Linked DNA regions of Homo sapiens. The protein of the gene in region 3 purifies or fractionates together with the protein of the main gene of each other region. This does not show direct contact. Each region holds a gene or a part of one and is shown on either strand. Other genes may lie near its edges. The genes, in order: GPNMB, FBXL5, TFEB, TRIM16, TBC1D14 and EML4.

Region 1 (3,500 bases), on a different chromosome or scaffold from region 3:
TCCCTCCTCGCTCTCCCTAAGAGAGATGCTGGTTTAAGGCATTTTGGGGTTGATTATGATTGATCTAACACCTTTAGATAAAGCCAGGCAGCTTTCCTTCGCAATAAAACTTAACTAACTTGTAGGGGTTGCTAGTTTATATCTTTTTTTTTTTTTTTTTTTGAGACAGAGTTTCTCTCTTGTCGCCCAGGCTGGAGTGCAATGGCGCGATCTCGGCTCACTGCAACCTCCACCTCCCAGGTTCAAGCGATTCTTCTGCCTCAGCCTCCCAAGTAGCTGGGATTACAGACACTCTCCACCACACCCGGCTAATTTTTATATTTTCGGTAGAGACGGGGTTTCACCATGTTGACCAGGCTGGTCTCGAACTCCTGACCTCAGGTGATCCACCTGCCTCGGCCTCCCAAAGTGCTGGGATTACAGATGTGAGCCACCATGCCTGGCCCACTAGTTTATATCTTATGGTGTCACCTAGGGAGAAATTACAACAGAAATTTTAAATAGCTTTTCATTGGCTTCAAATATATTTTTAAAACATGCTATGATATAAATAGTTTATAAGAAAAACAAGCTAGTTTAATAAAAATGCAATTCAAAGTAGACTAACATTAAACAACCTAACATTAAGTCTTTTACCATTCTGGAACTTAAATATTAAAAGCATCTGTAATTTATTTTGAATTTTATACCTGGTCCTCTTATTTGTAAAGAAGATCATTAATAGTTGTAGATAAAAAAAATTGCTTCTCCTAAAGGATTACTAGAATGAAGCTGTATATTTAAAGTTGTTCAATACAGTTATAATTGTAGTTGGAATTAGGATTAATCTAATCATCCATCAATAAGAGAATGGTGGGCCGGGCACAGTGCCTCACGCTTATAATCCCAGCACTTTGGAAGGCTGGGGTGGGTAGATCACCTGTGCTCAAGAGTTGGAGACCAGCCTGGGCAACACGGCGAAACCCCATCTCTACTAAAAAATAAAAAAATTAGCTGGGTGTGGTTGTGTATGCCTGTAGCCACAGCCACTTGGGAGGCTGAGGCAGAAGGATCACTTGAGTCCAGGAGGTGGAGGTTGCAGTGAGCCAAGATTGTGCCACTGCACTCCAGCCTGGGTGTTAGAGCAAGACGCTGTCTCAAAAAAAAAAAAAAAAAAAAAAAAAAAAGAGAATGGTGAAATAAATGACAGTACATACATTCTATGAAACACTATGCAGCCACTGGATAAAGTGAGATAGACTTATATGTATTAACAGTGGAAAGATGTCTATAATGTTTGTTAAATTAGAAAAAGAGCAAATTGTAAAACAATATGAATAGCCCTCTTGTGTAAATGAACCCATTTACACAACCAAAACAAACCTTATGTGTATATATAGTATATGTTTATAAATGCATAGAAAAATATCTGGAAAGAAATCCTCCCAATTATTAACAGGGTTTAACTCTTGGGAGGAGAGTACGAGTGGGGACTTTTGCTTTTTACTCTAGACATCTACATTGTTTTAATTTTTACTAAGGAACATGCATAAACTTTGTAATTTAAAACATTTTTGAGATAATCGAAATCAGTGATAACTTGTGTTGTCTTGACTTAGATATGCTTGATTTAACAAGCTCTCATTTTATTACTAACATCTTATTGTAAAACTTTATAATTTATAACAAACAGGATTTTGTAAAAACAAGAAGCCCCAGACGTCATGATGGACCGTCGTGGGCTTGGTCCCTGGCGCCCTCTTGTGACCAGTGAGAGGATGTCAGCCTATTGCTATCCCCAGGATCCTGGGGTGCTGAGTGCAACTGGCCCAGTGGGAAAAGGGTGGTGATGGCATGGGGTAGCGTGGGGAATCAGATGGAAGCCAGTGCTACCCAAAGTGGACTCTTAAGGACTTCTTGAATGTCCCCAGACTATTAATATAGGGTGGTATTGAATTAATCATGCCTTAAATGCAGCACAGTTTTATTTTTATTTATTTTTCTCTTTTTTTTAAATTTTACTTTAAGTTCTAGGGTACATGTGCACAAAGTGCAGGTTTGTTACATATGTATACATGTGCCATGTTGGTGTGCTGCACCCATTAACTCGTCATTTACAATAGGTATTTCTGTTAATGCCATCCCGCCTCCCTACCCCTACCCCCCGACAGGCCCTGGTGTGTGATGTTCCCCGCCCTGTGTCCAAGTGTTCTCATTGTTCAGTTCCCACCTGTGAATGAGAACATGCGGCGTTTGGTTTTCTGTCCTTGTGATAGTTTGCTCAGAATGATGGTTTCCAGCTTCATCCATGTTCCTACAAAGGACATGAACTCATCCTTTTTTATGACTGCATAGTATTCTATGGTGTATATGTGCCACATTTTCTTAATCCAGTCTATCATTGATGGACATTTGGGTTCATTCCAAGTCTTTGCTATTGTGAATAGTGCCGCAATAAACATACGATGCAGCACAATTTTAATGTCAGGAGTCACTGCAGCTTGCTAACCCAGACATACTCTCAAGCTACATTCTTTCTTGGACCATTTGGAAATTGCTTTCAAGTACAGCTGTGTTTTCATGGACACTGGGTAGGTGTGGGCAGGGTAGGGAAAGAAATTAGTGGGGGAGAGGAAGGAACATAGAAATGACCTGATCGTATAAGGAGCCAGTGTGCCTTCTCATAGCCATAAAAAATGGGAGATAAACAAAAATGTGACAGGTTAGAAGAGGGGAGAGTGTGTACACATAGCAGGGACCAGTGCAAATGAGGAGGGTCAAAGAACTTTCTACAAGTCACTGAATTCTATTTGCAAAGTGACTTTACATACATTCTTCCTTCTTCTGTGTTCTATAGGTGTAAAATGGTGATAACTTTGCTTTAAAAAATCAACAGGTAGAAAATGGAATCACCGCAGAGTCCTTACAATATCCCCTTAAGGAGGGATTTAATAATATGACCTGCGTGAATATTTTGTTAGCCATTAAGGAGCCTCCCTCAAAGATCACTGCGAAACCTTACCTAAAGAAGGGGTGGGTTTTGAAGGTCTGGGTGGTGGTGGCGGTGGCGGACAAGGTCCTGGTGCTGCAGCTTTCACAGTGAGGTTAAGGCTGAAGGTTCCATTGAGCACATACGTGTGATTCACAGTATGATTGGTGGAAACAAACAGGCCAGTATTATCCCCGAAGCTCCACTTGTAGTTAATGGTAGAATAATTGAGGAAGTGGCTAGGATCATGAATCAGGACATCAAACATAATGGGGAGATCTTTGAGGAAGGTTTCGTCGGATGAATTTCGATCGTTCTTCTGGAACATAGTCACAAACACAGGAATCTGATCTAAAAGATACATCCCCCAAAGAAATAAAGAATGCATGATTGCTTGATTGTAAGTGGAGGGCTTCGACGATGCTTTTAGGTTGAAATATTAAAATGAGGGATAATTTAGCATTATTTTCCTTTTCACATGCAAGTTTTCTGGGGTTTCCCTAAGCTATTCTGGAAAACAGATGAACTACAA
Region 2 (3,500 bases), on a different chromosome or scaffold from region 3:
GTCACATTCTCTAGGATGGGATACCAGTTCTACCATTACTTAACTGTGTAACCCTGGGTAAGTTACTTTTCTTTCTTTCTTTTTTTTTGAGACAGAGTCTTGCTTTGTCGCCCAGGCTAGAGTGCAGGGGCATGATCTCAGCTCACTGCAGACTCTGCCTCCTGGGTTCAAGCGATTATCCTGCCTCAGCCTCCTGAGTAGCTGGGATTACAGGTGCTCGCCACCACGCCCGGCTAATTTTTGTATTTTTTAGCAGAGATGGGGTTTCACCATCTTGGCCAGGCTGGTCTTGAACTCCTGACCACATGATCCACCCGCCTCGGCCTCCCAAAGTGCTGGGATTACAGGTATAAGCTACCACGCCCGGCCTACTTTTCTTTCTTAATGTGTTAATCTTGATGTTAAATGGATATAATAAAACATCTGTATTTCACATGGTTGTTAGTACTCAATAAACATTAGCTATTATCATTTTGAAAATTAAATATTCATTTTTTATAAATTCATACATTTTTTACTCTATACAAATATTTACTGAGTAGCTATGATGAGGCAGGCACTGTTCTTTGGTACCTGGGATATATCAATGAACAAAACAAAGATTTCTTGCCTTTATGGAGTTTCCATTTCAGTGAAGGTAAATAAGACAATGAACAGTTAACTGCAATACATAAGTAAATAATCTAGAGCAAGAATTGGCAACTTTTCTATAAAAGGACAGGTAATAAATATTTTAACTTTTGCAGGCCATGTGGTCTGTAGCAATTATTTACCTCAGCAGTTGTAGCACAAAAGTAGTCATAGACAACATGTAAATGAATGACTGTAGCTGTATTTCCATAAAACTTTATAAACACTGAAATTCAAATTTCATATAATTTTTCACATGTCACAAAATACTATTCTTCTTTTGATTTTTTCCAACTATTTAAAAATGTAAAAGTGATGCTTGGCTCTTAAGCCACACAAAAAACACAGGCAGGACATACTTGGTTAAATACATATTATAGATTTTTTTTTAAATCATAAGAAATGCCCCACAAGATTACAATAAAATCTATTGGTGGCTAATCTCTGCAAACACTATCATGTATCATTTTTTGGAAAAAAAAAAAAAGGCAAACTTAAAAATAGCCTTAGTAGAAGCAGGGTACAAAATCAAAAGAAACCATTAATGCTAAATATTTTTTATTATTATTATTATTATACTTTAAGTTTTAGGTACATGTGCACAACGTGCAGGTTTGTTACATATGTATACATGTGCCATGTTGGTGTGCTGCACCCATTAACCCGTCATCTAACATTAGGTATATCTCCCAATGCTATCCCTCCCCCTCCCCCCACCCCACAACAGGCCCCGGTGTGTGATGTTCCCCTTCCCACGTCCATGTTGTTCTCATTGTTCAATTCCCACTATGAGTGAGAACATGCGGTGTTTGGTTTTTTTGTCCTTGCGACAGTTTGCTGAGAATGATGGTTTCCAGCTTCTAGATATTATTTTTTTAATGGCAAAAAGTAAACACAGTCAGCCTCCGTGGGGATGCAGAAACCACAGATTCAACCAACTGTGGATTGAAAAAGGCTGGGCATGGTGGCTCACACCTGTAATCCCAGCACTTTGAGAGGCTGAGGTGAGTGGATTACCTGAGGTCAGGAGTTCGAGACCAGCCTGACCAACATGGTGAAACCCCATCTCTACTAAAAACACAAAAATTAGCAGGGAGTGGTGGTGTGCACCTGTAGTCCCAGCTACTCGGGAGGCTGAGACAGGAGAATCACTTGAACCCAGGAGGCAGAGGTTGCAGTGAGCCGAGATCATGCCACTGCACTCCAGCCTGGGCAACAAAGCAAGACTCCATCTCAAAAAAAAAAAAAAAAAAAAAGAAAGAAAATGTTGAAAAAAATAAAAATAAACAACAACAACAAAAAACAATATAACAACTACATACATAGCATTTTCACTGTATTATGTATTATAAGTAATCTAAAGATGATTTAAAGTGTATGGGAAGATATGTGTAAGTTACATGCAAATACTATGCTATTTTATCTGAGGGACTTGAGCATCTATGGAGTTTGGTATTCATGGGTGTCCTGAAAACAATCTCCCACAAAATAGGAGGATACCAAGGGAAGACTGTAATGCCCTAACATGAGTTAAGAAAAATAATATATTAAAAGACATACAGGGAATTTTGCATATATTCTCATTAGACTATTAGAAATTCTTTTAGATCTAATAACACATTAAGGTAAAGATTAGTTTCATGCCACAAACTGACAGTCAAATTAACTATAGTAACTATATAAAGAGACTCTAAATTACAGGTAGAATCTATATCCAGCTAACCTAGCACAGTAGTTAAAAGCACTGACTCTAGGGCAAGATTGCCTAGGTGTAAATCCATTCTACCAGCAAGTCATTACATTTCTTTGTACCTCAGTTTCTTCATCTGTAAAACAGGGCTAATAATATTAACTACTTCACAGAGTTCTTGTGAGAATTTTTTTGAGACAGGGTCTTGCTCTGACACCCAGGCTGCAGTGCAGTGGCATGATCATAGCTCACTGCAACCTCAAACTCCTGGGCTCAAGTGATCCTCCTGCTGGCCTCAGCCTTCCGAATAGCTGGAACTACAGGTGTGGTGTGCACCACACCCAGTTACTTTTTTATTTTTTAGAGACGGGGTCTCACTATGTTGGCCAAGCTGGTCTTAAAGTCCTGGCTTCAAGCGATCCTCCTGACTCAGCATCCTGAGTTGCTGAGATTATAGGCACAAGCCACTGCACCTGGCTACCTGTGATAATTTAATAAGTTAATATAAAGAACACAGAATATAAGCCCTACCTAGGCATCTGTAAGGCTTATTTAGTAGGCTTTTCTGTTATTAATTCTGTATTCAGACCAAAATAAAATATCATTAGAAAGGAATTGGTACAGCCATTATGGAAAACAGTATGGAAATTCCTCAAAAAATTAAAAATGTAATTTTCATAAGTTCCAGCAATCCCATTCCTGAGTATATGTTCAAAGTAAATAAAATTAGGATCTCTAAGAGATATCTGCACTCCCATGTTCAATGCAGCATTATTCATAATAGCCAAGATATGGAGCCAACCTGAGTGCTTGTCCACAAATGAGTAAAGAAAATGTGATATATACAATAAAATATTATTCAGTCATAAAAAAGGAAATCCTGTCATTTGCAACAACATAGATGAACCTGGAAGACAGCTAAGTGAAATAAGCCAGAGACAGAGAGATAAATAATGTATGATCTCACTATATATGGAATCTAAAGTAGAACTCACAGAAGCAGAGAATATGAAAGGTGGTTGTTGGGGCAGGGGATGGAGAAAATGGGGAGATGCTGAAAAAAGAACACTAACTTTCAGTTCTAAGATGAGTACGTTCTGGGGATATAAGGTACAGTATGGTGACTATAGCTAATAATACTGTATTATGTACTTGAAATTTGCTGAGAGTACATCCTCTG
Region 3 (3,500 bases):
GGGATCAGCATTCCCAACTCCTTGATGCGGTCATTGATGTTGAACCTTCGTCTCCTTTCAACTAAAGGTAACAGATTCCAGAAGGAGCAATTAGAGGGATGGGGACCCCCCACCCCATGGGGAGAAGTACCCAGCCCAGGGAGGGGTGCTTCAGGGCAGCCTGCAGCTTAGATTTAGTTCTTCCAGGAAGTAAGAGGTGACCAACAGATTGGGATTTCTACAGGAATTAGGGGGTCCAGGGCAAAGGCCAGACACAATTAAGAGCACTGAAAGGTAGAATCAGCCATGGTGATGCTCGTAGCACAGCAAAGCTGCCTGGGGTAGGACTCTTCCCTGCTACACAGAACTCTGATGCCCCAGGTTCCATGCCTTAACCCAGAAAACAACCTGATAAACTGGGGGTTTCATGAATATCCCTTACAGGAATCCTTCCTACCCACTCCTAAAGAGGCCTAGTGGAAAGACAGCACTAATAGTCCCAGGCACCACTGAGCGACAGCAATGGGAGGGCTTAAGCCATCTGCAAGTGAATTGGCCTTGAGCAGGGAAGCCTTCCACCAGTGCAGGTCAGGGAGTGGCTTTTTAGCCAGCCCAGGTGAGAACAAGGAAGAGGGAGGCAGGGAGAGGGGCGGGGCAGGACTCACTTAAGTTGTGATTGTCTTTCTTCTGCCGCTCCTTGGCCAGGGCCCTGCTCTCAGCATCTGGAGGCCAAAAGAGAAGGAGAGAGGAGCTGGGAGGGAGGGAGAAAAGGAGGGAGGAGTCGGGTATTCAAAGGCACAGGGGTAGAGGGAGGCAGTACCTGTGAGCTCTCGCTTCTGGGTCAGGTCCGCAGGGCAGGAGCTGCTGGTGACGCCCACCAGGGAGGCTGTGACCTGGGGGTCGCTGCTGTACACATTCAGGTGGCTGCTGGACAGGGGTAGCTGTGGGGTAGGGGGTGAGGGAGACCCATGAGTATCCCCCTCTCCACGGGGAGCCCCCTCTAGGGCCTATCATCCCAGGAGCAGTCCTTCCTGGGGACACCTGGAGTGTCAAAATTCACCTTGGGCCCTTTCACCCAGCAATTCAACCTGAAGGTCTGCAGAGTCCAGAGCTATTATAAGATGTAGTCCCTGCCCTCAAGGAGCCCCTGGCCTAGAGTGTCTGAGAGAGTGATCCAACCAATAATATGTGATAGGATTAGGCCCCAGGCATTATGGAAGCCCTAGAGCAGGTCATCTAATCAATTCTAGAGTTTCTGGACGGTTTCCTGGAGGGTGTGGAACTCTGAGTCTTGAGCAGAGATGTGAGGCAAGGCACTCCGGGCAGCCACCAGGGCACAAGCAGACAGGGCAGCTTGGCAGAGCACAATTCCAGCAGCTCAAGGGCAGAAGTGGTGGGGGTGGAGGTGCTGTAGGCAGGGCAGATGTATCTGGATCCCCAGTACAGTGTTTGACTTGCAAAGATACTGGAATTTTGGAATGGGCAGCCAAGGGAAGTTGAAGCAGGAGTCTGACAGGGAGAGATCTGAGCTCTGGAAAGATCTGCCACAGAAACATGCAGAACAAATCACAGGCCCAGACACCCCACAGTGTACACAGGAACTACTAAAGGGACCAATCACTTGCATCCTCCCTCCCTCCTCAGCCCTCGCTGCCCCTGCTAGCTGTAGGTTTGGACCCAACCAGTCCCGGCCAGCTCCTACTAAGCCACTCAGCGATGTCACCAGGGCAGTGGGGACAGAGGATTGACTCCCCACCACAGGAACTGGGGACTTTCCCTTGGTGGCATGGGCTGGGGCCAGGATCAGGGTGAAAGGCTCATGCCCAAAGGCAGGAGTAAGTAGCTGAGGTTCAGGAGCTCCAAAGAAAAGTGGGTGGAAGGGGCGCTGGCAATCCCACCTGCCCAGCGTACACACCTGCCACCTTTGTAGAGAGCTTGCCCTCAATTTCTTCCCTCATCTAATCTTCCCACAATCCTGTGGGTAGAGAGCATCACCCCCATTTTGCAGCTGAGAAAACTGGGGTTTAGTATGCTTGAGGGATTTCCTAAGGTCACAGCAAAAGCCAGAAGCCAGGCTTCTTGACTCCAAGCCCAGCACCTCCCCACCTGCTACCCCACCTCTGCCAGGAGACGCAGGAAGCTGCCAGAGGGAGTGTTCCTGTGGTTGGGGACAAGGCCAGCCCCAGATCACTTGCCCCATGGAGTAAGAGACACAGACAGGCTTTTGCCTGTTGGGCCCTGGGTTTGGTAAAGGAGGGGAGGCCCAGGTCCCCAAAGGAGCTCATTAGTTCCACACCTTCCCATAGACACACTGCCCCTCCACCCATGCAGTGCTCTCCCTGCCTCCCTCTGCCCCTTCGCCAACCTGGAAAGCTCCCCCCACAGGCCCACTCCGTGTCCCCAGCCCCTTCTCCCCTCTGAAGCCCCATGGTGCACAGAGGCTGAGGCACATCCTTCTTGCTTCATAATTCCTCTTGGCCCCGGCCTTTGTCACATTATTTAATGAAAATGACTCATCTCTACAGAAACATGCCAGCTCTGCCCAGTGAGAACCCTGTCTCCACTCTCTCCAGGCTCAGAGCCACAGTGGGTGCCCCCCTCCCTAGAACCCTTGCACACCCACCCCACCCTAGCCAGGAGTACCGTGTTGGGCATCTGCATTTCAGGATTGATGTAGCCAAGGACATCGTCCAGACGCATAATGTTGTCAATGACATCATCCAACTGGAAAAGAGAAAAGTCCATCTGGGGAGGGCCCACCACGAGGTGGGCAGGGGAAAGAGGCATTGGGACAACCACTGACCTGGAGGGACCTTGGAGCCCACCTCACCCAACCTACTTATCTGGGGAAAGAGGAAATAGGCCCAGAGAAGAGATGAGCTGTCCAGGTCCCACTGGCCCAACATGAAGCTACGGTTCTTGCCAAGGAGCCTACCTGCCCAGGGAGCTTCCTTGATCTCACTTCTGTCTCTGGCTTGGGGAGTGTGCTGGGCTTTCCTGGATAAGTCTTCTGTTTCTCCCTAGCAGAGCTTTCTTTTTTCTTTTTTCTTTTTTTTTTTTCGAGAAGGAGTCTCACTCTGTCGCCCAGGCTGAAGTGCAGTGGCTCGATCTCAGCTCACTGCAACTTCCGCCTTCCCGATTCAAGTGATTCTCCTGCCTCAGCCTCCCAAGTAGCTGGGATTACAGGCGTGCACCACCACGCCCAGCTAATTTTTGTATTTTAGTAGAGATAGGGTTTCACTATGTTGGCCAGGCTGTTCTCAAACTCCTGACCTCAAGTGATCTGGCTGCCTCAGCCTTCCAAAGTGCTGGGATTACAGGCGTGAGCCACGGCACCTGACTTCCTAGCAGAGCTTTTGAAAGTAAGGATGGCGTTTCCTCTGTGAGGCTCCCTGAGGGCAGGGCTGTGTCTTCCCCCCTGAGATTGGGGCTCCCTGAGAAGGGCTCTGTCCCCACCTCAGACTGAGTCTCCCTGAAGGCACCCCTGCCTCTGCCATTAGACTGGGAGTCTCAGAAGCACA
Region 4 (3,500 bases), on a different chromosome or scaffold from region 3:
ACTTTCTCCATTTGCGAATAAAGGAGTTGAGCCTGGAGGTCTTTAAGCACCTCTCCAACTGTAACATTGCACTTCTTGTTTTGTTTTAGGGTTTTTTGGTCCCAGGGAACCTCGTTTTCAGAGCAGTGGCTCACGCAGATCCTGAGCCCAGTTAATGGTCATACCTTTCCCTGAGTTTATGTTCATTCTATCCTCTGAGATTATCTTTGAAGTCTCATTACATAGATGTCTGTAAAATCCTTCAAGCTATGGACAGCCAAGGTCAGAGGCACATTTTCTCATAAGTGGCTGTTTCTAAATTCATAGGTTTGAGATACATAAAGATAAACCAGGTTCCTTTATGTCAATTTCCTTCCAGTTCTGCCCTCTGAGGACCCTGCCCTTTCCCAAAAGGGGTATCTTAAGAAGGAAAATATGGCTGCTCTTTGCCGGACAGCAGAGTCCCAGGTGAGTTGGGGATTTTCCTCTCTTCTTGGAAATTTTATTTTAATTGAGTTGGGGATTTTCCTCTCTTCTCAGAAATCTTATTTTAATTCCTGAAGCAAATTTTTTTTCTCTTAGCATGAAGCTTGTCAACCACATTAGCCACAGCAGTTTGAAAGGAAAGGATCAAGCAGGTGGGATGGACTGCCAATGAGATGGTGTTTGCGTGTTCCTCAGTTGTATGGCAGTAGCAGTGAAGGTCAGGAGGCTTGGTAGCCTCGCCCATCAGTTGGCAGTGTAGAGAAAGGATGGTAGGGGCAGGATGGGAATGAGGCCTCTTTAGCAGATAATTGAGGAGCGTGACTCCTAGAACATGGTTGGGTAAGAATCAAGCTTCTTTTTGTTCACTTGAGACATTTGGCATAGATATGCAAAGGCACGTGAGGCATTTCTTGCTTGCATCTGCTTAGAATATTTTGGGGAGAAAAGATGTACACAAATCTGTGTGGCACAAACCAGCAGATTTATTATTATTAAATAGGGCCTTATTATTAAGGGCCTACTCAATATAAAGTGTCTTAGGGAAAATGCTGTATGGACTTGGAGGAGCAGGAGCAAATGTGTCTGGCTGAGAGAGATTTAGGAAGGTTTTATTCATTCAACTAGCATTTTAAAGTCCTTTTAAGCAGCTCCTAGGCTAATGAAAGTAGTGAGATTTGATGTGGGCCCTGAAAGCTGAGTAAATTCTTGAAAGATTTATAGAAAGTTAGTGACATAAATGACTTAGAATCAAAGCAAGATACTGATTCCTCTGGCACAGGAAAAAAGTCAGTACATTGAAATCACAGAGGTGTTGTTCCACAAAAACTTAAAGGCTTCTTATACTCAAAGTTCTTTCCTAGATATAATTCTCAAGCTTGGCTTATTTCTTTTTTTCTTTTTTTTTTTTTTTGAGACATAGTCTCGCTCTCTCGCCCAGGCTGGAGTGCAGTGGCGCGATCTCAGCTCACTGCAAGCTCCGCCTCCCAGGTTCACTCCATTCTCCTGCCTCAGCCTCCCGAGTAGCTGGGACTACAGGCACCCGCCACCGCGCCCGGCTAATTTTTTGTATTTTTAGTAGAGACAGGGTTTCACCGTGTTAGCCAGGATGGTCTCGATCTCCTGACCTTGTGATCTGCCCGCCTCGGCCTCCCAAAGTGCTGGGATTACAGGCGTGAGCCACCACGCCCGGCCAGCTTGGCCTATTTCTTAGTTTCTTACTTACCATGTGTCTCTCTCAACTTAACTGAAGATAACCTTAAGGCCGGCTAAACAATAGGCTTGGGTGGGAAGGCCACATCCTTAATCTGACATTTTTTTTACAGGGCTAAATCACTTTGTTTAGTTAACAGGTGTAATGGGCCTTTATTGCTCAAAGCTCTTGTTAGACTTACTTCCCACTGTATGAGATCTAGAAACAGTTTGCTTTTCCAACCACGTGAGGCCTCAGATTTCTGCACTCTATTCTCTTTTGTTTTGGCTTGAAAATTGACACATTGTTTCCTGAACTTAACTCATTCTTTGTTCGCCAGACATATCCAGGAGCATTCTACACAAAGAGCGTTCTGGTGCTTTCCAACCTGTTCTAGAGCCACAGGCCCAGTGAGCATTTGCCCTGGCCTCATAGTTGCTAATTAGTTTGCCAGTGTATATTAAGAGTCTGCATCTGTTGGCTGGATGCGGTGGCTCATGCCTGTAATCCCAGCACTTTGGGAGGCCGAGGTGGGCGGATCACCTGAGGTCAGGAGTCTGTGACCAGCCTGGACAACATGGTGAGATCCCGTTTCTACTAAAAATACAAAAAAAAGTAGCTGGGCGTGGTGGCTCACACCTGTAGTCCCAGCTACTCAAGAGGCTGAGGCAGGAGAATCGCTTAAACATGGGAGATGGAGGTTGCGGTAAGCCGAGAGCATCGTGGCCACTGCACTCCAGCAACAGAGTGAGACTCCGTCTCAAAAAAAAAAAAAAAAAGGAGAGTCTGCATTTCTCCAGTCGTAAATATTCTTTTCTTTGAAGCTTGCCACCTGACTGTCAATCCAATGCCACCTGTGTATTTGAACTTTTTATTATGATATCTCCCACTTGAAGGTGCTGATTTCTGAATTAGTTTGGGTTGGCTTACTAATAACTGTTGTAACCAATAGACCCAAAATATATATGGCCTTAATACAATAGAAGTGTATTGTTTGCTGTCATAGCCATGTGAGTGGGTATATAGATTGATAGGATGGCCATTCAGGGACCTGAGCTACCTGAAGCTCTAGCCTCTTTACCATATGGCTTCCAAACTCACTCTGGGGCTCATGGCCCTACCAGCCAGTCAGAAGGGGAAAACAGCATGGAGGAACATACGTGAGTCAGGCCTGGAAAGGGCGCACATCACTCCTGCTTGCATTCCATTGGTTAGGATCTCATGGCCAGGTCTAACTACAGGAGGTTGGGAAATGTTTGTATACCTAGAAAGGAGAGGAGGAGGCATATTTTCATGGACAGTTAGCAGCTCGTAGCACTGTTCTCAAACATTTAGGTTATTTAGAACGATTTTGCTATTTTTCTATTGTAAGGTATAAATAGATGTGATTCTTTGTTTATAACTCTCCATATTTCTGATAGTTTTCTTTTTTTTTTTTTGAGACACAGTCTCGTTCTGTTGCCCAGGCTGGAGTGCAATGGCGTGATCTCGGCTCACTGCAAGCTTCGCCTCCCGGGTTCACGCCATTCTCCTGCTTCAGCCTCCCGAATAGCTGGGACTACAGGCGCCCACCACCATGCCTGGCTAATTTTTTTTGTATTTATAGTAGAGATGGGGTTTCACCATGTTAGCCAGGATGGTCTCGATCTCCTGACCTCGTGATCTGCCCACCTCGGCCTCCCAAAGTGCTGGGATTACAGGCGTGAGCCACTGCACCCAGCCGATAGTTTTCTTATAATTGAGTTCTGTATATAAAATTACTGTAAAACAAAACTATCAAATTATGTCAGAGGGGTATACACATTTTAAGATTTTAAGATTCTTTAATATACGAGTCAATAAAATC
Region 5 (3,500 bases), on a different chromosome or scaffold from region 3:
CGATGCCCACAGTCCTCTGGGTACCTGCTGTGGGCCAGGCCCTGGGCTGAATTGATGAACATTCACTGTAACTCCATTTACTCACCTGTAAAATGTTTAGTGAGCTCTAAAGATTCTGGCACAGAAACCCTTTCCCCTCAAAGGAACTCTACATGGAAACTCTTCTCTAACATTTTTAAGACTCTAGGACAAAAGAACCCTAGACTCTGCCCATGTCATCACTTGTTTTAAGTCATTTTTCATTATATTCCATTATCTTCCCAAAGGTAGTTCAGAGAGGCTCACAATAACAATGTCACAGCCATCACAACGAGGATAAGGAACCAAGGAATAAAAGAAGAGACACTTGTTTCCTGCAGCACAAAGCTGAGTATGACTTCCAAGAAACGGTAGCTTTAGAAATGATCTAGAAATTGCATAACCAACGATGCTTCCTTTCAAAGGGGAAGAGAATCCAATATACACAGCTCAGTCAGCTGAATCACAACGGCGGCAGAAAGAGCAACGTGGCCATGATCGCCACAAGCAACTCATACTTAAAAGTTTACTACGTGTCTGGATCTGCATTAAATTTCTCACATGCTAACCCATTTTAATCCCCACTGCCACGGAAGGAAGGGCTCATTATCCCCACTTCTCAGGTGAGGCAGCGGAGACAGAACGTGCGAGGACAAAGGTGAGCGTGTGGCGTTCGTCAACAGCATAATGGGCACACGGGCCACGCTCCTCCGCGCACGGTTCTAGGGGTGAGAAAACTGACTGGGAGGTGAAGGAACTTGTTCAAGGGCACAGAGCTGGACATGGCACAGGTCGGTTGAATTCCAAAGCCACACTCCTTCCACCATGCTGTTTCCCGGCCAAACCCATTTCAAGCAAGGTTTCCCACATTTCTGAAAACCCATCCTCAGGCCCTTCTCGCTGAGCTTCTGATTCTGTATGTCTGGATGGATCCTGAGGTCCGCGTGGAACGGGTACCAGGTGTTGTTCATAAGCAGGGACAGTTGAACACACTCGTCTGAGCACGGGGAAGTTCCGCCACACAAATCTAACCACAGCAACACCGCGATATGGCTACAGCCTCAGAAGGGATAGTGACAAGATCTCCCCCAAAGTTCCCAGGTTCCTCCCACTGAGGGCAATCGCTGAGTTACTGCATTCTGAGACCAGGAACTGTGCTCATGGTACCAAGATACCTATCTGTCAGCACATTCGAGAAGAAAGTTTCCCGACAAAACCACAGACCACACCACAGATCATCTCACTCAGGACTGGCCTTAGGCTGGTCCGAGATGATCCCCTTTAGTTGATGAAGCAACTAAGGCAGTGGTAATGTGTTGGCCACAGTCAGAGTCGCCAGCTGACTCCAGCCGGCACACCACACCATCTCAAAGGGACACCCGGTACTGCAATGTCTGACGTGGGTTCTGCTAGAGACACACACACGGGGCAGCCAGGGTCAACTGCAGAAATGTTCCCACCTGCCAAGCCCCGGCCCCAGAGCCCTCCAAAGAGCAGCTATGGAGCAGATCACGATTCTTTTTTTGTTTGTTTGTTTTTTTGAGATGGAGTCTCATTCTGTCGCCCAGGCTGGAGTGCGGTGGCGCGATCTCGGCTCACCGCAACCTCTGCCTCCTCCTCCCAAGTAGCTGGGAATACAGGCGTGCACCACCATACCTGGCTAATTTTTGTATTTTTAGTAGAGACGGGGTTTTGCCATGTTGGCCAGACTGGTCTCGAACTCCGGACCTCAGGTGCTCCACCCACCTCAGCCTCCCAAAGTGTTGAGATTACAGGAGTGACCCACTGCACCCAGCCACAGATCTCAATTCTACACGTACTCTCCACAGCCCCTGTGCCCTTCCTCCCAGCACGCCACCGTTCGGGAGTTCACATTTGCTTGTGTGACGAAGGTGTCCACTCCCACCACCCCCAGGCCACAAGCCCACCCTAAGTCATGACCCAACATCGTTTCTCTCACCGTATTACCCCACATGACCAGCCTAGAACAGGGCCTAGGAAATAGGCACTTGTTGAACAAAAGCATGAGAGCACAAACGAGAGGCAGAAGCTGAAGGCGCGGCCCCCCCAGGGCTTCAGGGAGACACAGGAACTCCAGCACTCAGGTGACAAGGCCCCATGGGGACGGAGTGCATGGCCAGGCCCAGCACGTTGGGAATGCATGGGGCTGCAGTGCAGCAGAGCACACACCTCCACAGCAGAGGCAGGGCCAGGACAGGCACACGAGAGCACAGCCATCCAGGGGCACGGGGACACGGCTGGAACACCCGGCATGCCAGCACTGCACTATGCCAGCAGGGGCTGGCAGTAGAAATGAGAGTTACTCACTGGCGTCACCCTCACCAGTGCCCTCTGCTTGGCCCAAGAAACGTTAAGTTATGAGTGCACAGGGCCCCGCAGAGGCTCAGGCTGCTGATTTGGTAACACTGGCCACCTGTGGGACAGCCACAGCAGGTCAGAGGCAGAGATGTGACAACAGACTGCAAATGAGCCAGGGACACCGAAGAACAGAATCCCCAACAGACCAGTTCTCACAATCCCACAGGATTCCGGGCTTCTGGGAAAAGACCCAATTATCTGTGTGAGACAGTGCCTGCCTAACACCACAGAGAACACACAACACATTTGAGACAGGAACAAGGAGACTGGTCTGGACTCAACCACCACGATCTTCTAGAGGGCAAAGATGGCATTACCTTGCAAAGAAGTTACTAAATGGCCCCAATATTTTCAATTTACTCCCCTCCTCAGCTTCATGAACACAGTCCTGCTGGTGTAAGCCACGGGTTTCCTTGATAGAGCTCAAGGTGACGTTGGTAAACTGTGGGTCATCGTCATTCTCCAGGGTCACAATGGCACTGGAGCTGCTCGTGACCACAAGGTCCAAGATGTCCTCATTGCTGACGGACAGCGTGGTGGACAGCTCTGTCCCAAGACTGGACACGCTGCAGACGGAGACATCATCGCTGCGGGTCAGGGCTTTGGAGGTCGGGCTATAGAGCTTTACCGAGTCATAGCCTGTCCTGGGAAACGTGGAGGATTTGCGCACGCTCTGTTCCCGCTCGGTGCTGCTAGGAGCTGGTGGCGCACAGGATGGCAGCGCGCAGGCGCTCTGGAAGGCCCGCTCGGGGATGAGGTCGGAGTCGGACTGCTTCCTCCTCACGTGGACCGCGCTGCAGGGTACAGGCTCCGGGTTCCCGATCTCCAGGGTAGGAATCCCCGAGTCCACGGACTGGAGGCTGTGCCGGTCTTCTAAAGCCCTGAGTTTCAGCTTGGGCCCGTACTCAGGCGCGGAGAGGAGTCGGGGCGCCTTGAGATTGACGTGTTGCAGGTTCTGAAGGGGGTTTCCTGGTCGACCATCCAGAATACCCATGAAGGCTACGCCATTTGTAGAGGTGGAGAGTTTTCCATCAGTCATCTTGGTCCAAGGAGAAACTAGAAAAAACACAAACATGGAAATTAAAGTGGATATAAAATTCAAA
Region 6 (3,500 bases), on a different chromosome or scaffold from region 3:
TATCATTTTGCAACTGCACTCCCTCTTAATCTCCCATCATTTTCCCTATCCTCACATGGTTCTTAACATTTTCTAATATAATTCGTGATAATGTTTATTATTTTTATTTTTTGTAGAGATGGTGTCTCACCCAGGCTGGTCTCAAACTCCTGGCCTCAAGCAATCTTCCTGCCTCAGCCTCCCAAAGCACTGGAATTACTGGCGTGGGCTACTGCAACTCGCCTTATTATTTTTTTTGAGATGGAGTCTTGCTCTGTTGCCCATGCTGGAGCGCAGTGGCACAATCTCGGCTCACTGCAACTGTCTCCCAGGTTCAACTGATTCTCCTGCCTCAGCCTCCAGAATAGCTGGGATTACAGGTGTGTGCCACTGCGCCTGGCTAATTTTTGTATTTTTAGTAGGGACGGGGTTTCGCTACATTGGCCAGGCTGGTTTCGAACTCCTGACCTCAGGTGATCCGCCCACCTTGGCCTCCCAAAGTGCTGGGATTACTGTGCCTGGCTGCGTCAGGGCTTATTTTTTATTCTGTCCCATACACGCTAAAATGTAGGCTTCACAGGACAGGAATTTTTGTTTTGTTTTCTGATGTATTCTGAATACACACAATAGCATGTAGCATGTCGCAAAAGGCAGGTGCTCAATAAATAATTGAATTCTATGAATATACAAAACGGATAAGAACAACAAGCATATTAGTGTGCCACTTAAGAGATTAATTCTCCAGATCAGATTGAGAACATTCCTGAATAGCATTTAAACATCCCACCACTTCAGATTACTCAGTTCACTTAAAGACCCTACCTGCCTGAGTGCGTTCCTATGGCCACCACTGTGCCACTTGGATGAAAATCTGCACAGTGTCCTGGTTCCTAGAAAAGAGACAGACAGCTGTTGGGGAGTACATGAGAAAGTCTCCCTATGGGGACAGTAGCAAAAACTTCTGAAAATAACCTGTTTCATTCAAACATAACATTTCAATCAACTTTGTAGCTAATGAGAAATACCACACAGATATGAGAGGAAAAAGAATTTCAGAGCATGAAGGGGATATGCTGGCAGAGTGGTGAGGGAAAGGGACAACCAGCTTGTGGCTAGGGAGTGGAACAATAATAAGGATAATAACAACAAACACTGGTACAGTTCTTTAGCATCCACAAAGAACTTATATACACCTCTTGGGCTAGAGAAGGTGGATATCTGGGTTGGGTAGAGAGAAAATACAGTAAGAGACCACCCAGAAAGAAGACAGTAGAGCCTGTTAGTGAGCAGCACTTACTGAATCCAACTGCAATGCCACCCGAGGCACAAATGTTTCCATAATAATTAATGCTATGTAGATATTTGAAATCTTTATGATTTTACTACTGAAGCTGATGGACAAATTGAGCTTTTACGCTGCTAACTTACTTCTTCTATTTTTTATTTTTTGAGACGGAGTCTCGCTCTGTTGCCCAGGCTGGAGTGCACTGGCACGATCTCGGCTCACTGCAAGCTCCGCCTCCCGGGTTCATGCCATTCTCCTGCCTCAGCCTCTCGAGTAGCTGGGACTACAGGCGCCCACCACCACGCCTGGCTAATTTTTTGTATTTTTACTAGAGACAGGGCTTCACCGTGTTAGCCAGGATGGTCTCGATCTCCTGACCTCGTGATCCGCCTGCCTGGGCCTCCCAAAGTGCTGGGATTACAGGTGTGAGCCACCTTGCCCGGCCTAACTTACTTCTTTAAAATCGGTTCATGTTCACACTTTAAGACTAAACGCTACCCTCTTATCTCCACCCTCTATTACTAAACCATATGTTTACATTTGGTTTGAATCAACACTTAGTCCTTTTTACTTTGCTGCTCTCAACTGCCAGTGTGAGGAGTTTCTGTGGGGAGGTTAATAATCACATCCTGCTTCACTCACATCTACCAGCCTGGTCCATTCCAGCCTGTGTTCCATTGAGTTCCACAGGCACACCTGCCTGTCCTGAGCACATGTCAAGAGCAAATCTTTGAAGGGATGTGTGGCAAGACCCCAAAGCTCATCTGTATGACCCTGAAAATGAAAGACACTCATTGTTATAAGAACCAAAGAATATCATAAAAAATATTCAGTTAACGGTTAATATCACACAGCTTACCTGTACTTCTATTTGGAAGCCATCATTAAATGTTCCTCGTAAAATAAAGTTTCGTGATGTGCCTACTAAAAATTGATCTGCCTTTCCTTCTGCTACAGCTCTGATTGTGCCATACTGATCAGGAACCTAGAAAAAAAAGTGTAAAGTCACCATATACATACTAATATGCATTAATTACTACTCGAAGCCTGCATTTATAGCTGTAAGCAATTATGAGGTAATTATGACGAAAGCCCAAATTTGGATATGGTAATCTCATACTACTACTAATTTATTTGTCCAATGACATTTTATTATACAGAAGTTATAATAATTATCAACATTCTTTGCTTCAGTTAATTTTAAACGTATATTTTATATGACTTTAGGAGTTAAGGGTTAAGAACAGGGAAAAAAGGCTGGGCATGGTGGCTCACACCTGTAATCCCAGCACATTTGGAGGCCAATGCGGGTGGATCACCTGAGGTCAGGAGTTCGAGACCAGCCTGGCCAACATGGTGAAACCCTGTCTCTACTAAAAATATAAAAATCAGCCAGGTGCGGTGGCGGGCGCCTATAATCCCAGCTACTGAGGAGGCTGAGGCAGGAGAATTGCTTGAATCCGGGAGGCAGAGGTTGCAGTTAGCCAAGACTGGGCCACTGTATTCCAGCCTGGGCGACAGAGCAAGACTCTGTCTCAAAAAAAAAAAAAAAGAAGTAAGTTCTATTAGCTCACATGAAATCACATGAAGAATGTGGTCGGGTTTTGTTACTTATTAGTTATATTAGTTACATTACTTTGGGTAAGTTACTTAGCCTAAGAAACATTTTCTGTAATATAAGGATAATAATACATGCCCTACCCACTCTTGATTGTTGTAAGGATCAAAATATAAAAATATTCTCACCACAAAAAAATGATAAATGCATGAGGCAACAGACATACTAACTACCCTGACTGGATTACTATACAGCATATCTGCATCAAAACATCAGATTGTATCCCATAAATATGTTCAATTACAATGTGTCAATTAAAAAAATGTAATGTGGAAGTTCTCTGTAAATTAAAAAACAATATATTATAAAGTATTATAATAATAGGATTCCTTGGGAGAGCAATTTCATTTAATGCAATACATGGAACAATCTCAGTGAATGCTGTGTTAATACATTTAATAATAATCTCAAAGAATGATTCTGAAATAATGGAATTATAAATCCCACTTTATCAAGTGGGATCTAAAATTACTCCTAAAAATACAAATAACTGAACTCTAAGAGGAATCCAAATTTACATTAGAAATGGGAAAGGAAGGAGTGAACTAGATTGTATAGCTTTTATTAACAAAGGATATGAGTTATCTGTGAAGAAAACAGTGATGGAAGTTGCATTTT

What was found.
Region 1: the proteins of TFEB (region 3) and GPNMB purify together in Homo sapiens (affinity purification with mass spectrometry; one large-scale study listed by BioGRID and IntAct). This does not show direct contact.
Region 2: the proteins of TFEB (region 3) and FBXL5 purify together in Homo sapiens (affinity purification with western blotting; one study listed by BioGRID). This does not show direct contact.
Region 4: the proteins of TFEB (region 3) and TRIM16 purify together in Homo sapiens (affinity purification with western blotting; one study listed by BioGRID). This does not show direct contact.
Region 5: the proteins of TFEB (region 3) and TBC1D14 purify together in Homo sapiens (affinity purification with mass spectrometry; one large-scale study listed by BioGRID and IntAct). This does not show direct contact.
Region 6: the proteins of TFEB (region 3) and EML4 purify together in Homo sapiens (affinity purification with mass spectrometry; one large-scale study listed by BioGRID and IntAct). This does not show direct contact.

What each region holds. Positions count from the first base shown.
Region 1 is NC_000007.14:23,260,275-23,263,774, reverse strand, and holds part of GPNMB (transmembrane glycoprotein NMB isoform b precursor), read right to left. Parts: intron 3,320-3,500; coding exon 3,002-3,319; intron 1-3,001. UniProt on the Homo sapiens protein: Could be a melanogenic enzyme.
Region 2 is NC_000004.12:15,645,358-15,648,857, forward strand, and holds part of FBXL5 (F-box/LRR-repeat protein 5), read right to left. Parts: intron 1-3,500.
Region 3 is NC_000006.12:41,687,109-41,690,608, forward strand, and holds part of TFEB (transcription factor EB), read right to left. Parts: intron 2,704-3,500; coding exon 2,623-2,703; intron 921-2,622; coding exon 800-920; intron 702-799; coding exon 645-701; intron 62-644; coding exon 1-61. UniProt on the Homo sapiens protein: Transcription factor that acts as a master regulator of lysosomal biogenesis, autophagy, lysosomal exocytosis, lipid catabolism, energy metabolism and immune response.
Region 4 is NC_000017.11:15,677,812-15,681,311, reverse strand, and holds part of TRIM16 (tripartite motif-containing protein 16), read left to right. Parts: intron 1-358; coding exon of another isoform or gene 359-447; intron 448-3,500.
Region 5 is NC_000004.12:6,923,326-6,926,825, reverse strand, and holds part of TBC1D14 (TBC1 domain family member 14), read right to left. Parts: intron 3,454-3,500; 5' UTR 3,437-3,453; coding exon 2,715-3,436; intron 1-2,714. UniProt on the Homo sapiens protein: Plays a role in the regulation of starvation-induced autophagosome formation.
Region 6 is NC_000002.12:42,301,853-42,305,352, reverse strand, and holds part of EML4 (echinoderm microtubule-associated protein-like 4), read right to left. Parts: intron 2,250-3,500; coding exon 2,124-2,249; intron 2,039-2,123; coding exon 1,907-2,038; intron 870-1,906; coding exon 802-869; intron 1-801. UniProt on the Homo sapiens protein: Essential for the formation and stability of microtubules (MTs). Required for the organization of the mitotic spindle and for the proper attachment of kinetochores to MTs. Promotes the recruitment of NUDC to the mitotic spindle for mitotic progression.